Regions from separate parts of the Homo sapiens genome. Here regions 2 and 3 are each linked to region 1. The links come from fine-mapping of genetic effects on plasma protein levels. A gene starts in region 1. Each other region holds a variant in brackets. All regions are shown on one strand. Distances are between the middles of the regions.

Region 1 (5,597 bases):
TATCAAAACTTCTATTTTAGTTCTGATAATTAAGATTCTATTTGTTTAAAAAATACTAAGAGCCTGTGATATAACAGATATCCTTAAAAAAAAAAAAAGCTGGGTGAACTAATTGAAAATATAAGGGGAAAATGCCATGTAGTCTAGTTTTTGTGTTTGAAAAACATAGAAAACGCCAGTAGAGAAAAAGACCATTTACCATGAAGATACAAATAAGCATAATTTTGCTTCTTTGAATAGTTGGTTTTCAAAGTGCCCACAGATATTGCCTAACCCACTAAGTATTGGGTACTACAGTAAATCTTTCAGGTTTTTTTTTTTTCTCTTTTTTGAGACATAGTCTTGCTCTGTCGCCCAGGCTGGAGTGCAGTGGCGTGATCTTGGCTAACTGCAACCTTCCGCCTCCCGCTCCGCCTCCCAGGTTCAAGCGGTTCTCCTGCCTCAGCCTCCCAAGTAGTTCGGATTACATGTGCCCGCCACCACGCCCAGCTAATTTTTGTATTTTTAGTAGAGACGGGGTTTCACCATGTTGGCCAGGCTGTTCTCGAATTCCTGACCTCAAGTGATCCACCCACCTTGGCCTCACAAAGTGCTTCTCAATCTCAAAAAGAGATTGAGAAAATTAAGAAATGTCTGGTTGAACTTTTACAGCTACTGTCCCCACTGCCTCTACCACCGCGCTGGGCCTCAGATTGTATAAAACATTTTAATTGGGAGGCCATTATGCTGAAACAGCTCCAACTGCCTTGGATTTCCTGCTTAAGCAAACTCCAGCCCAAGGTCAACAGTGAAAGGAAACTTAAGCTTAACCTATCAGAAACTGCCAACTAACCTCTAACTAGTAATTTTCCACCAAGTCATAGCTAAATAAGGCAAACAGTCATAGCCAACCAAGTAATTATTTTCCTTTGCTTCCCTGTTCGGCCTATAAAAGCCCATGCTACTAAAGCAGACCTCTCTGAACCCCTTCTGGTTTAAGTACTGCCGATTCATAAGTTGTTCTTTGCTCAAATAAAAAAGGTTATCCTACTTTGTCTGAAGTCTTTCTTTTAATAAGATGTTAGGTTTCCACACTAGGCAGGTTCTCCATAAACACTTTCACCATTTTTATTTCTTCTCCTAAGTCATGTATATATACTTTTTTACTGGCATCTAAGTGTTCTGCCTCAGATTAATGTACTAGATTAAGAACTAGGAATCATGCCTATTTCTACAAAAGAATCGTTCTTTGAATTAAGCCTTTGGACCTTCCTGATGTCATCCAATTCCTGCTTTCAGTCATCGAAGTGGGCAGTCAGGTGGTTTTAATATTGCTCCAGAAGGTGTTTGATTAAAGTTGCCAGAAGCCTTACAAATTGTTATGTAGATAGAAGGAAAATGTACTGAAAGCTATTTTTTTTACCACTCTTCATGGGTGGTTTTGAGGTACTTTAAAGGAAAGGGCTAGCAGGTATAGAAAACTAAAGGTAAGCAAAATACTCTGCATTCTAATGTACTGTTGGAGTGCTGAGATTCTTTCAAACGAAATCCTCGTTCCTTGGAAACATAAATGGATTATCCTACCTTGTTTGCTTTTTACACCCAGAGTGCTTCCGCAGAGGCACAGCAGGGGAATGAAAGGAGCTTGCCTTAGGAGGCAGATCTGGTTTGAACTCTCGCCTGCCTACGCAGGCACTTACAGGCTGTGAGGCCTGAGGAGTTACTCAACTTCTCTGAGCCCGAGCTTCCTCATCTATAAATTGAAGGATCCGTAAACAGGAAGGCCCTCATCGAGTGGTCAAAGCTGGTTTCGGCGCCCACGGCACCTCTCCTTAGGGCTCCGTTCTACCCTAACTTCTCTTCGTGCCCTGAAGCCCAGACCTAGAGGAGCAGAGGAAGGCGCTGACCTCGAAATCTGGATGGTGGCGAATCGGGCGGCAGAGCTCAGGCTCCGGGCATGGGCAGTCGGTCCCGGCCGCGAGCCGCAGCGCCAGCAGCGCCAGCAGCGCCAGCAGCGCTAGACCCGGGACGCCGCTCGGCGGGCTAGAGACGAGGCGCCAGCGTCGAAGCTGCGGCCGGGACATAGCAGCAGGTCTAGCGGGCCGGAGTGGGTTCCTACCGCCTGGGTGGGCGGGGCCTGCTGCGCGTCGGGGCAGGAAGGGGCGGGGAGAGTCGGGAAGGGCGGGGAGGGGCGGGAGGGGCGGGGCTCCGGGGCGGGCGTGGGAGGTCGGGCTTCGAGCGTCCCCGGGCGCTACAGGTGGGTGAAGTTAAGTGGCTGCTGGAGCGTCTCGGGGGACAGCCAGTGTCTGCGGCGCCGAGAGGGCCGTTCGTGGACTCAAATGGGTATCACCCCTACCGTTTATAGTCCTCCCAATAGTCTGCATCTCGTTTTGTCGTGGCTGGTCGTGTACTCCTTGTGGAGTCTGAAGGTACAAGGGGATCCCCAAAATGGAGAAGTGGGTGTCTTTGGAAGGGCCTACTGAGTAACATGGTTGGAGTGGCCAAAAGACTTTGTTTTTCTTTTGCTACTCAAAAGAAAGCTGGAATACCAAAAATTTTTACTTACGGATATCAGGTCTTAGTTAAGATCGTGGTTTGAATTCAAGCATCTAATTTTGCCTACTCTCCTGTTAAAAATCAAGTTTAACAACCTAAACACAAGGACAAAGAGATAACAGCAACAAAATGTTGGAAGCTGGAGAGCACAAGTATGAGTATGAGAGGTAAATCGGAAAAGGGGGAGATTAGTCAAAGGCTGCTCAAGGACTCTGATCGCTAGATCCTTTTTCCAGCTTCATGTCTCTGGGCAGCTGCCCCTCTTTCCCACCACGGGCTCCCACCCCGGCTGAATTCCCTGAAGGGGATAAATTCTCTGCTGAGTGGGTATTCCACCTAAAACGGAGAATAAGTGGCTTTATGCCTACTGAAAACTGAAACCCCTCGCTATCTGATTAACCTAAGAGGCTGAGCAAAGATACTGACATCGGGTTTTCTGGACAAATCATACACCCAGATCACCCTACAGTGAAATTCAAAGTTAAAAGCACCAGCTATCTACTTGGAGCTTCCTCTCTTTGTACTTTTTAATTTTTACTTTTAATCATGGACAGCAACCAAAAAAATCCAATAATGTAGAAAGAAGGGACCCAAACAACAGACAAAGGAATATGGAGGAAGCAGATGCTGCAGGGAGAACACTTTTAAAAATTCTCATAATAGCCCCAGAAAAATAAGAGAAGATGAAGCCACAACAGGGTGCAATAAAAGGGGTAGGGGATTTTTAAAAGTTAATAGAAATAAGAAAGAAGTGAAAAAACTATTAGTAGAAGATAACACTGAGGAATGTAGAGCAAAAACTCTGAAAGATAAGAAAATTGGAAAACGCAGTACAGAGGGGATGAAATAAATAATTCTTAAAGGTGCTTGAGAAGCAGCGTAGTACAAATAAGAAGAAATAAGTAATTTGGGCTGGGCACAGTGGTTCATGCTTGTAATCCCGGCACTGTGGGAGGCCGAGGTGGGCAGATCACTTGAGCTCAGGAGTTTGAGACCAGCCTGGCCAACATTGTGAAACCCCATCTCTACTAAAAATACAAAAATTATCTGGGCATGGTGGCAGACACCTGTAATCCCAGCTACTCGGAAGGCTGAGGCAGGAGAATCGCTTGAACCTGGGAGGTGGAGGTTGCAGAGATCACACCACTGCACTCCAGCCTCAGCAACAGAGTGAGACTCTGTCTCCAAAAAAAAAAAAAAAAAAGAAAAGAAAAGAAATAAGTAATTATCAAGGCTCCAGGACTGAAGAACACGCGTTTTCAGAATGAAAAGCTAGGCCAGGCACTGTGGCTCACACCTGCAATTGCATAACTTTGGCAGGCCAAGGCAGGAGGATTACTTGAGGGCAGGAGTTTGAGACCAGCCTGGGGAACATAGACCCTGTCTCTACAAAAAATAAAAAGCAAAAAATTAGCCCTGTGTGCCAGTGCGGTGGTAAAAGCTTGTAGTCCCAGCTGCTCGGGAGGCTGAGATGAGAGGATTGCTTGAAGCCGGGAGGTTGAGGCTGAAGTGAACTATGATCATGCCACTGCACTCCAGCCTGGGTGACAAAACAAGATCCTGTCTCAAAAAAAAAAAAAGTACAATTGAACCTCCATAACCAGAGGTTCCACATCCATGGTTTTAACCAATGTCAGATAACAGTATTTAAAAATAACAAATAATACAGCAATTTAAAAATGCAAATAAAAATACGGCAAGAGCACTGTCAACATAGCATTACATCGTATTATTATAATTAATCTAGAGATTATTTGAAGTACAGGAGGATGTGCATAGATTATGCCATTTTATATAAGGGACTTGAGCATCCATGGATTTTGGTATCTGGGAGTCCTGGAACCAATCCCTCATGATACTGAAATGTAACTATGTTTTTAACATGAATGGTTGCACTGAATCAAGTTTTCAAGGAAAAGAGCCTTCTGACTCATAGAATCAGACTGTATTCTGTGACACAGAAGAAAACACATATCTACCTGTGTTAGGGATCCCTAAGATCACCTCCAGGTTCAGTGATGCACTAAAAGAACTCATAGGACTCAGTTGTACTCACAGTTAAGATTTATTACAGCAGAAGAATATGAAGCAAAAGAGCAAAGGGAAAAAGTGCACAGGAAGAAGACAGGAGGAGGCCAAGCACAAGCATCACGTTGTAACATGTGTGAAGGGCTGTCTGCCATGGAAGCTCATTAGAGACTCAGGGAACAGCAGGAACACTCCCAAATCCACCTACAGGCCAACCTTCAGGAAGCAGGCCTTTCTAAAGATCGCAGTCTTAGGCCTGTTACGGTAACTCTTTTCTGCATACTAACCAAATGAGGAATTCCTACATATTTGTATTGAATTTTATATTGGTGCTGTACATTCTATGGGCTTTGACAAATGTATAATGATGTGTATCCAGCATTATAGTATCATACAGAATAGTTTCACTGCCCTCAAAATTATCTGTGCTCTACCTATTCATTCCTCTCTCCTTGCTAACCACTGGCATCCACAGATTTTTACACTGTCTCCATAGTTTTGCCTTTTCCAGAATGTCACATAGTTGGAATCTTACAGTATATAGCTTTTCAGATTGGCTTCCTTCACTTAGTAATACGCATTTATGGTTCCTCCATGTCCCTTCATGGCTTGATTGCTCATTTCTTTTTAGCACTGAATAATACTTCATTGTTGGGACGTACTACAGTTAATCCAATCCTGCAGCATCTGCTTCCTCCATATTCCTTTGTCTGTTGTTTGGGTCCCTTCCTTCTACATTATTGGATTTTCTTGGTTGCTGTCCATGATTAAAAGTAAAAATTAAAAAGTACAAAGAGAGGAAGCTCCAAGTAGATAGCTGGTGCTTTTAACTTTGAATTTCACTGTAGGGTGATCTGGGTGTATGATTTGTCCAGAAAACCACTGATGTATCTATTCACCTACTGAATGGATTTTGTGTTATCACTTTTTTGAATTTCACTGTAGGGTGATCTGGGTGTATGATTTGTCCAGAAAAACCCCTGATGTCAATATCCATTCACCTACTGAAGGACATCTTGGTTGCTTTCAAGTTT
Region 2 (5,597 bases), 22 kb before region 1:
ATTGACTGTATTAAAATTGTTACCTTAACAGTAAAGAGCATAGGTGAAAAAAAAAATGCAGGAAGAAAAACTAAACCTGTGAAAAGATACATGATATAATAAAGCCAAAGTAAAATTTAGTAAAATTTTACTAGGAAGAATTAAAGGAAAAGGAACCTGTGAGTCAATATATTCTCAAAAAAAATTTTAAGTAGTTTTCCTGTATTAGAATTATTAAGTCTGATAAACCACTGAGCTCTCCTCTGAACTGACATTTAATTTTTTATGGGTAATCGTTTCATTTTTTCTGGTTATTTTCATATGTATTCTATTATTTAAATATGAATAATGTGTCTTCTACTAGATGTTAAGTTTCCTTCCTGGCAGAGACTATGCCTTAGTTAACTTTGTTTCTCCCATGGGACCTTTTGTATAGCAGATGCTTAGTAGAGGCTTCTGGGCATGCTCTATTTGGTGAGAATTGTGTACAACTAATTACATCATAGAAATTATCTGTGAAGTACATATGTATTAAAAAGCTTTTTTGTTGAACAGAAAACAGAAGATTATACATTTTCATACAAGTACCCACAGCAAGGCAGGAAAATGAGAACGATAATTATATGAATGCTCTCATTTCTTTATCAGAAACAGCTTTATGACACAGAATAATGACTGCATTCTAGAATTAGCTCTTTTTAAAAAAATTTTAAAAAGAAAAAAGAAAATCAGTACTGTCCTCGGTTTCAGATAAAAATAAAAATAAATAAAATTTAAAAATAAAAAAATAGAATTAGCACTGTCCAACAGAACTTATGTGATGATAGAAATGTTCTATGCCTGCACTGTCAGATTGGTACCCACTAGCCACCTATTGATATTGAGCACTTGAAATGTAGTTTGTGTGACTGAGGAACTGAATTTTAAATTTTATTTAATTTTAGTTAATTTAAGTTTAGTAGTTACATATGGCAACTGGCTTCTACTATACTGGACAGTGCAGTTCTAGATTCTTTTTACAAGCAGCATTCTCGAGGCTAAATAAGCCCTGGTTTGGCACTGAGAAGCTTAAAACTTAAAATAGAAAAGGAAAAGAGCAGAGGATAATTTTTAACAAAATATCAGTTAAATATGCACTCAAAAAATAATTTGTTCAATGAAGGAAAACTGTCTATTCAATATATGGAGATAAAGCCAATATGTAAACTTGTACACTTAATAATTGGGTAGGTAGGAAGGAGTAATAAAAATGCCCCCAGAGGCTTGGATTATGACTCCCCTCATGCTGTTTTCTTCTGGAAAGCATG[C/A]ACATTACTTGTAATCTTTGTATATTTTAACATTACAAATGTCACTCATGGTTTGAACTCAAATTAGAATTGTTCATACAAAAACAGTAAGGACAAGTGGAATAAGAGGAAAAAAAGAGAACAAAGTTTTCAGCTTATAGGCTGGGGGGAAAAAATCCTGTATTTAACCATAGTGCCTGATTGACACATAACAGACATTATTTAAGAAGTTTTATTGATTTCTGAATGATCTCCCCAAAACAGCACTACCTATAAGATTCAGAACTAAGGGACAAAAAAAACCCAGCCTGAGTCTCTTGCAACCATATTTATTCAAGATAGTATAGCATAAGTAGTGCTTCTCAAAGTTTAATATATCATCTGAGGATCCTGTTTAAAAATGCAGGATCTGACTCAGTAGGTCTGGGTGCAGCCTGAGATTCTTCCTACCTAACAAGCTCCCAACTGATGCTAATGCTGCTGTCCACAGACAACACTTGGAATAGTAAGGGCTCTGGTACCAGGTGGTTTGAATTTGAATCCTGGCTGTACCCACTTCACTTACTAGTTTTTTATCTTGAGCAAGTTACTTAGCCTCTAAAGGTCTCCATTTCAACTGTAAAATGGGGATAAATACTAGTATCTGATTCTGTAAAATTTTTGAAAAAAAAATAAGAGACTAATACACTTAGAAGAGTGCTTGCCACAGAGTAAACACTATATTTCTGAAATATCTATTCCGTTCCTAAGGGCTAGGAATTAAGGGTTTTTTTTGTATTTTGTTTTCTTGTTGTTTTCACTATTTTCTTTACACATTGAGAACAACAGGTTTTGAAGTTTAAGCAAAACATAAAATTCTTTCTCACTCTAGTTTTTAGAACAGTTCAATTGTATTGTCCCTATCTACTCATAAACAAGGTTACCTTATAGCATATCTCACCAGTAGATAAGCATGCTTATTAAACAGCATTCATAATCTACACATTTACTGTAGTAATCCAGTGGGAGTTGAAAGCACTGAAGCCAAATGAGAGAAGACAGTTAAAGCGGTTACAAAAACCCTGTTTACATGACAACTATGATGTACTTTTAGAAGGGTATGATGAAGTTCATTTTTGAAAAGTAATTCTTTTTATAGATGAGAAAACAAGCAGTTTCAGATTTACGAACATTGAAAACTGAACTGGCACAGAAAAAAAAAATAATACATCTCTACAATCTCAATTAGGTATGTTAATTTAAAACTTTTATTTGTAAAAAAATTTAAATATGTATTTGAACAGATTTGTTTAACCATTATTCTCCTTGGCAATGTTTTATAAAAAGCACAAGGTTTCTCTTTCTCCACTTTCCATGTGGGTATTACAAAATGTTTCAGGAAATATTAGATGTAATATAAAGCAAAATGATGAATGGTTATTTTTAACATTCCAAGTCCTTTACATATTATTTTACAGTGCTAATTTTATAATTTTCATTTTAATAATTTAATAATAAAATTCAATAATAATTTATTTAACAATTTAAGAGCTAATATAACTAAAATCTATTTGCAAAGAATAAATGTATATTAATGAATACTAATATATTTGCATGAAAATACAGACTTCATTTAACTTAATTTGTTCATTATATCTTAATTAAAAGAAATCTGGAAATATAAAAGAATGGGGGTATTGAAGTTGCATTCTGAGCTATGATAGAGATAAGCATCTAAGAATTTAAATTTTTTAATTCATTTATTTTAGAAATATGAAGACAACAGTGATCCAACATATACTATGAAAATGGTTTTTACTCTGTCACAAACAATTGTGTAAATAGGAAATGTAATATTCTCATAACAGATGGTTCAATCATCATGTATTCCAATTTACAGGGGCAAAATGTGCAGGGAAGCCAGGATTTATGTAAATCTAGAGTTCAAAGATACAGATTTTTAATCTGTAATTAGGAACTAATAAGGGCAGCACAATGTTGTTCTTAATTCCCTGGAGAAAGAAAACAGACTTTATTACATTTAGAAAACTTATTTGTATAAAATTGATCTTTTAGAAAGAGAACTAGTTGAGAAGCTAATCAGTGTCTTTAGATCATTAAAAGCACAATGCAGCTCATGCCTGTAATCCCAGCTCTTTAGGAAGCCAAGGCAGGAGGAGTGCTTGAGCCCAGGAGTTGGAGACCCATCTGGACAACATAGCGAGACCCTGTCTCTACAAAAAATAAAAATAAAAAAGATACATTGCAGATGTAGAAAGAAAAATTTAACCATGTAAGCAAGCTAGCCAAGAAATAAATTATATATGTCCATAAATGAAGAAATGAATAATTAGAAGTGTGACAGTGAACAGAATCAAGTTCAACTGCAAGTTATTCCTATTATTAAAAATTTTACAAATGAGCCTCATAAAAATAATGTAGTTGGAAAATATTAGGTAGTTCTAACTTACCAATTCAAAATATTACTGTTACATTCTTCTATTTTGTGAATACATTTAATCTTCTGGATTCTTTTTAATTCTCACTCACTGTCCAAAGATTTAGTTCAAGTACCTCAGAGAACATAAATACTATATGGAGTCAGGAAGCAGAAAAATTATTTTCATCAGTTTGATGAACCTAAAGGGGAGACACTACATTGTAGGTTTTAAATTTAAGATTTATTGGAGGGTTGGGGGAAAAGTATAGCACAAACTGCTTTTCAAAGACTAGGTTTTTAAAAACTCTAAGCAAACAATTTCCACTTCAGATTATACATATTTTAAAAATCAGCATTGATTCGTGAGCATATATTTTACTATAATGAAGGGAAATATGGCATAATAAAATTCTGAAAGCAATTTTTCCCAATTAAATTATAGTGTTGAAACATCTAATAGAGGAATATTTAATAGGTAAGTTGACTTGCTTCTTGCCTTTATGTTCCTGGATACTGAGGACATTCGTGTGTATTTTTCAAATTCAAACAATCAAAACATTTATTTATTCTTTTTTTTTAGTATACGGATAACAAAAGTATATAGCAACATAATAAAAATGCAAGAAACTAGATCTGTTGATACAGATCATCTTTCTAACTCTTAATGGTTTGACAAAAGATGTTCATCTCTGTAACAGCTTTGGCTTTAAGACTTCCCACATTTCTTCAGTTTGCTGTTTGGCTACAGCATCTCCAGAGTAGTCAAGACAGTTTGCATTCCACATGCCAATGCCCCGTAAGCGATAGTTTTGTATATATGTTGCCTTTAAAGAAATACTCTGAGGGTTATCATACCATACTTGATGAAAGTGGCCAGCAGGATCCTATATAAATAAATTAAAATGGAGATTTTAAAGTATTTAGTACAATTCAGCACCACAGGAAAGGGAAAAATAAAAGAAGTATACAGTACAGTAAGAGGGAAAAAAGTTTCCTAAATCCAATTATTCAAAAAGGATACAATGAAATAAAAATTTTAGGGCATAACACTTTCCTATTCTATAATTCCATGGTTCTATATTTGATACAAATGGTCCCTGACTTACAATGGTTCAACTTACAATTTTTAGACTTTACGATGGATTTATCAGGGTATTTCGTTCATTTTCAACTTATCATATGTTTATGGGTTTATTAGGACACAATACAATCATAAATCAAGGAACATCTGTACTTTCTAGGTATTATTGCTTATGGCACTTTTAACAATGGCAAAGATTACAGAAACGAGCCTCCTAATAGATTCTACTTGAGCTCCTTTTCATGTCCTAAGATTCTTTCCTTGCCCTTAGCCAGTGATTATTAGCCAAGGCGTACATCTGAATCACTTGCGGAGCTTTTAAAATACAGATTCCTGGGTCCCACACCACATGAAACCTATTGAATCAGAATTCTCCAGGGTTAATGCTAGGGCATATATTTGTTTTGTGTTTTAATGTTTCATTAGATAATGCTGGTATGCAACCAAAGTTAAGGGGAATCAATGCTCTGGTCCTCTAAAACCAGCTTATGTGCTTTTTTGTATTCTCTGTAGTTGCTAGAAGTGTGCCTGGCTAGGAGGTCTACAGAAGATTTTGTTTATGATGAATCAGCCAAGTCAAAAGGTAATGGCAATGGAGGAGAAAAGTACATCCTTTTCTAGGTCTTACAGATACATTCTCAGAGTCTGTTAGGTCTGCACTTTATTGGTGACTTAACATACACCTGATTATGAGCCATAAATTAGATTCTGGTCTTATGTTCACCTTCCACCCTAAAAAGTCCTTCTGCCCAGAATCAACTACCTCTATCTAGTACTAACACAGTCTCTCTCAGGCAGCACATGAGCTATTGGATAAGAGACAAAGGAAAAG
Region 3 (5,597 bases), 41 kb before region 1:
TTTTATATTTTTAGTAGAGACAGGGTTTTACCATGTTGGCCAGGCTGATCTTGAACTTCTGACCTCAAGTGATCCACCCGCCTCGGCCTCCCAAAGTCCTGGGATTACAGACATGAGCCGCCATACCCAGCCTCTGTTTGTTGTTCTTAAGTGACAATTTCAATACCAGGTGGGAAATAAATTGTAGCAGCCAAACAAAAATCAGTATGGGCTCCAGGTTGCACAATAGTTTGGCAAGTCTTTTTTTTTTTTTTTTTTTTTGAGACAGGGTCTTGCTCTGATGCCCAGGCTGGAGAACAGCAGGGTGATCATGGCTCACTACAGCCTCAACCTTCCAGGATCAAGACATCCTCCCACCCTAGTCTCCCAAGTAGCTGGGAACACAGGCATGCACCACCATGCCTGGCTAATTTATTTTATTTTTCTAGAGATATTGCCCAGGCTGGTCTTGAACTACTGGGCTCAAGCTATCCTCCTGCCCAGCCTCCCACAGTGCTGGGTTTACAGGCATAAGCCACCATGCCCAGCAACAACTCTTGTAAAATGACTTTTCAAATATTAATTTGGCTCACTTATTCTTTTATGAATTAAAAAAATTGATTTCTCCAAGGGAAAAAAATCTGAATTAATACTGCCAGGTTCGTGTATCTTTTGTTTATATAGACCATGTGGAACATTAGTGTTAATATTTCAAAGATGGATTGTTTAGTTTTCCTATATTGAGAAATTTTGTTAAAATGAAGGGAGATTTTATCAATGAAAATGTATGTGAAATAAAAAATGACATTTTATGTTCTGTATTTATACCAGCATTTTCCAGAGAAGGTTCCTCAGAGCACTGTTTCAAAAACTGCTTTGGCAAACGGTTTGTAAAGACAATTAAGGCCGAACGCAGTGGCTTATGCCTGTAATTTCAGCACTTTGGGAGGCCAAGGTGGGCATATCACCTGAGGTCAGGAGTTCAAGACAAGCCTTGCCAACCTGGTGAAACCCTGTCTATACTAAAAATACAAAAATTCGCTGGGCGTGGTAGCACATGCCTGTAATCCCAGCTACTTGGGAGGCTGAGGCAGGAGAATCGCTTGAACCTGGGAGGCAGAGGCTACAGTGAACTGAGATTGCACCACTGCACTCCAGCCTGGGCGACAGAGCAAGTCTCTATCTCAAAAAAAAAAAATTATATTTCAGGAAACCCCCAACTTACCTACCCCGCTCTTGCAGATTTAGTTGTACATGGAGACAAACCCTTTAATAGGAGTGAATGTGTGTGTAGGGGGTTGTGTTGCTGTTTGATGTTGCTTAATTCAACATTTCCCAAGCTGAATTAACCAAATAATTTTCTTTTCACATAAACAAATATTTCATGAAATTCACTTTGGAAACTATTGACTTATATCTATATAGGAAAGTTCATGGGGATTCTGAAATCTACGATAAGATTATAGTGTACATGTATAAAAACAAACGTTTATTTTACTATTTTCCTAACATTCTGAACTTTATTTGCTGTGGATGACCATCAACATCAGCTGGGGGAAAAGCCACTGCAGAAAAAAGCCAAATTGCAAAAAATCAAATTGGAAATTCTGAGTTGCCAGGATCATTGGAAGATTCAAATAATGATTGCTTTGGCACTAAAAAAAGGTAATTAGTATAGATGCTGATTCCACATGCCATAATCTAAACAATAAGAAAAAGAGTAAGATATTCAGAGTATTGTTATAAAGACTTCTACTTAAAGATATGAGTGAAATTAGTGATATTTTAATTAAAATTACCTTGATTCAGATCTTTACTGTTTTTTGCTAACATTCCTCTCCAAGATAATAAGGGATAATTCATAACTTAAATTTATTTCTATTGTAGTACTTTTATCATTGGGACAACTTGATGACAGAAAAATTTCTGTCTTTGTTTCCCTTCATTAGAACTAATTATCCTGCCTCTCTTAAGTTCTTGGTTATAGGTAAACTAATCAATATGCTTGATTTTCACACTGGTATCATTTTATTCAAAATTATAGTACTTAGACGAGTTTTACACAGTCTTTTGAAATTAAGGGTTCTTATAAACAGTTATTCACAAAAGAACAATAAACAAATATGTTTCTAAAATTTCAAGTAATTTTATCTTGCTATAGATATTGAACTAGAATTTAGCTATAATATAATAAAATATGATTTTATTACTCATACTAAATGTAGCTTTACATGGATTACTAATGAGTCTGAAAGAACATATGATAATGGTCTCAGGCTGACTTTGAAAATTTTCAATATTTGTGTTTACAGAGCATCAAATAAAATACATAAAATATGAAAAGCTAATATTCATGGGATCATGTTTTAATGACTTTCAAACCTGTCATTTCCTTTAAGTCAGTGTCTTTGGGAAAATGAAGATGATACAGCTATCAGTAGAAGACAGGACAATCAGGTACTATTTAAAATTTTTTGTTTAAACATGGTATTGCAACATCATAATATTTTTACTAAGATTAAACTGAAACTGCAGATTAAAATGTCTAAGTTTTCCAGAAACATACTTCTAATATCAATATAATCAATAGTAGTCCAATTTTTCTGTTTTTATAAATAAGGTAACAATATGCCCAAATGAGAAGGGGGAAAAGTTATCCACCAACACCTTTTTGGATTATCTTCTCAAATTTTATTACTAGTTTTAAAGGTACATCAAACTATACTTAACTAGCAGCTTTCATAGCTAATTTGTAATTTAATATACTAATACCTGTACTTGATTAACTTGTCTCTTTAGAACAGAATTATATAGTGTGTTAAGAAGCAGTATAGTAGTAAATTGTTTATGTTATAGTTACTAGCTGTGTGACCTTGGAT[A/G]TGTTACCCAATTTGAATTGCACTGGTTTAAACGAGTTAATGAACACTATTCACATTACCAGTTTATTCTCAAGAAATGATGGAAAGACTAGGAGAATTTTGCACATATTTGCAGGATGAATTTAGGACAGTCTTAAGAATGATAACAATACTAATTTAAATAATAGCTATCCATGAGTATCAACTACCAGGCATTATTCTAAGTATTTTACACATACTGACTCATTTAATCCCCATAAAGGAAACTCCATGAGGTAGGTTATGGTTATCATTCCCCTTTTACAGATGAGGAAACTGAGGCACAGAGAGGTTCCATGGCTTTCCCAGGTGATATTATATAGTTAGTAAGTACTAGAGCTGGGCTTAGATCCTAAATAGTGTAGACTGGCTTCAGAGTTCAGTCTTAACCATTTTAATAACTACCTACCTAAATAATACTACTAATAACATAGCAAAAACCAGTTAGATAGCATTTACTGAGCCAATCACTATTCTAAATGCTTTATGTATGTTAATTCATTTAATTCAACAACTATTTGTGGAGGTACTATTATCTCTATTTTCAGATGAGAAAACGAAAACACAGAAAGTTACATTAATTCTTCCACGGTTATGTCTTTCATACCCATTGGACAAAATTCCAACCATAGTTAATAAATCACAAACTTCAAATGAGTCTTTAATTGTGCCAACAAATATACTACATTTTCTTGGTCCATTACTATTCTTCTAGACAACTCTGTCATACCTTCTCCTCAGACAATCAAGACCTCCTTTCTCTTGCATTCTCAGTGATAATTTTTGTTAAATAGAGGTAATTTGAAGAGAACCACGAATCTCAAAATTTTATGTACAGAATGAGGTTGTGGTTGTGGTTCAGTTGAGATCCTCAGATACCCACCTCCTACACCATTTGTTAAGACTTTATTTTTCCTATTGCATTATTCAAAACTCAGTTGACTCTATAAGATCTAGGACAACTTCTAGCTTCCCTTTCTGCTCAATGATTTTTTTTAATCCTTACGCCAATACCACATTATCTTCATTACTGAGGCTTTATAAGTAGTTATTGTTATCAGATAGCGTAAGATTTCCAAGTCAATTTTTTTTCAAGATCATTTTGGTGATTCTAGATTCTTTGTGTTTTCATATACGTTTTAGAATCAGCTTGTCAATTTCTTACCAAAAGACTACTGGAATTTTGAGTGAAATCACCGTGAATCTGTCAATCAATTTGGGAGGAAAACTTATATCCTAACTATACTTAATCTTCTAATCTGTGAACACAATATATTTCTCTATTTATGTCACTAGTTTCTTTCAGCAGTGTCTGTGGTTTTAGTGTATTGCTCTTATATCTTAATATTACATTTATTTTTAGATATTTGGTATTTTTGAAGCTTCTATAGAATGGTATTTTAAAATTTTTATTTTCTAATTGTTGCTAGTTTATAGAAATGTAATTGATTTTTATACATTGAACTCATCTATTGAGATTTTGCTAAATTCAATTAGTTCTATCAGGTTTTTTTTTTGTAGATTCTTTAGGACTTTCTACGTACATATTCATGTCATCTGTGAATAACAATAGTTTTACTCTTTCTTTCTATTTTTGTTATGAATTAAGTGTTTTTTCCTCCAGCTTCCTGAGTGTGAGAAGTTGTAATGGCAATAATAATGATGGCTTCTTGCTTTCAGCGTAGTTCTGGTGATGGCCTCAACAATGGTAATTTCACTAATGGAAACATCATTTTAGGAGACCAGACCTAGAACCTGCTCCTCCAGTCTTTCTGATACACTTAATTTCCTTTATTACATTTCTTCCTGCTTAAACCTGCACTGAACTGATTCAGTATTTGGTACAGAAAGTGTGACATGGGCCAAAAACTTTTACAAATGAGAATCTCAGACTGGTTATTGCAAAAGAACTGCAATATTTTGTTAATTCATGCTAGTAGAAACTTAGAAAAATATTATTGGAAATAGATTCAGAGCAGGAATGAAAGAATATAACTTTAAATTGGCTCAAGTTTAATAATATGGATACACTTATCAGAGATTCTGGATTTAATGTGCTAGCTCCAGCAACTGTGAGTGGTAAAAAACATTTTGCTAAATTGAGTGAGGCTGACAGAAACCTGGACAATATGGTGGTTCATACTGAGTAAATTTAGAATGCCAAGAATTTCTTGTTAAAAAGTAGAGCAAGAAATCCGAAGACTTGGGGATATAAAAATGTTAAGAGGAGATTTATATCCACTTTTTTTTCTTTTGAGACGGAGTCTCGCTCTGTCGCCCAGGCTGGAGTGCAGTGGCGCTATGTCCGCTCACTGCAAGCTCCGCCCCCCGGGTGCATGCCATTCTCCTGCCTCAGCCTCCCGAGTAGTTGGGACTACAGGTGCCCGCCACCACGCCCGGCTAATTTTTTTGTATTTTTAGTACAGACGGTGTTTCACCGTGTTAGCCAGGATGGTCTTGATCTCCTGACCTCGTGATCCGCCCGCCTCGGCCTCCCAAAGTGCTGGGATTACAGGCATGAGCCACCGCACCCGGCCCACTTAATTCTTTAACCAGACATTGGGGAAATATATTGGAAAGGCAACCCCAGAATTCTTTTAAAAAACCTTATAGTGGCTGTTTTGTGTCACATGGAATGAAGATAGGACTATACTTGATTTGTTTTTTCTTTTTTCTTTTTTTTTTTTTTTTGAGATGAAGTCTCACTCTGTTGCCTAGGCT

The links. PIP is the chance, under the fine-mapping model, that this variant and not a neighbour inherited with it causes the effect. The UK Biobank Pharma Proteomics Project read protein levels with antibody pairs (Olink). The fine-mapping took linkage between variants from a reference panel, not from the people measured, so its PIPs are less certain.
Region 2: its variant is fine-mapped to the plasma level of the CTBS protein (UK Biobank, PIP above 0.99).
Region 3: its variant is fine-mapped to the plasma level of the CTBS protein (UK Biobank, PIP above 0.99).

Annotation. Positions count from the first base shown.
Region 1 is chr1:84,572,353-84,577,949 of GRCh38, forward strand. It overlaps CTBS (chitobiase), which reads right to left and starts at 2,088. Exons shown (of 7, transcript NM_004388.3): 1 at 1,887-2,088. The coding sequence starts at 2,063. RefSeq lists enhancers at 678-727, 1,441-1,540, 1,651-1,940 and a silencer at 2,101-2,220.
Region 2 is chr1:84,550,632-84,556,228 of GRCh38, forward strand. It overlaps SPATA1 (spermatogenesis associated 1), which reads left to right. Exons shown (of 14, transcript NM_001397487.1): 13 at 5,279-5,348. It overlaps CTBS (chitobiase), which reads right to left. Exons shown (of 7, transcript NM_004388.3): 7 at 1-4,568. The coding sequence ends at 4,368. Among named protein-coding and RNA genes, the nearest start is that of CTBS, 21 kb to the right of the region's middle. The variant C/A (reference allele first, on the strand shown) is at 1,287.
Region 3 is chr1:84,531,331-84,536,927 of GRCh38, forward strand. SPATA1 (spermatogenesis associated 1) reads left to right here. Exons shown (of 14, transcript NM_001397487.1): 7 at 1,530-1,644; 8 at 2,379-2,436. Among named protein-coding and RNA genes, the nearest start is that of GNG5, 28 kb to the left of the region's middle. The variant A/G (reference allele first, on the strand shown) is at 2,859.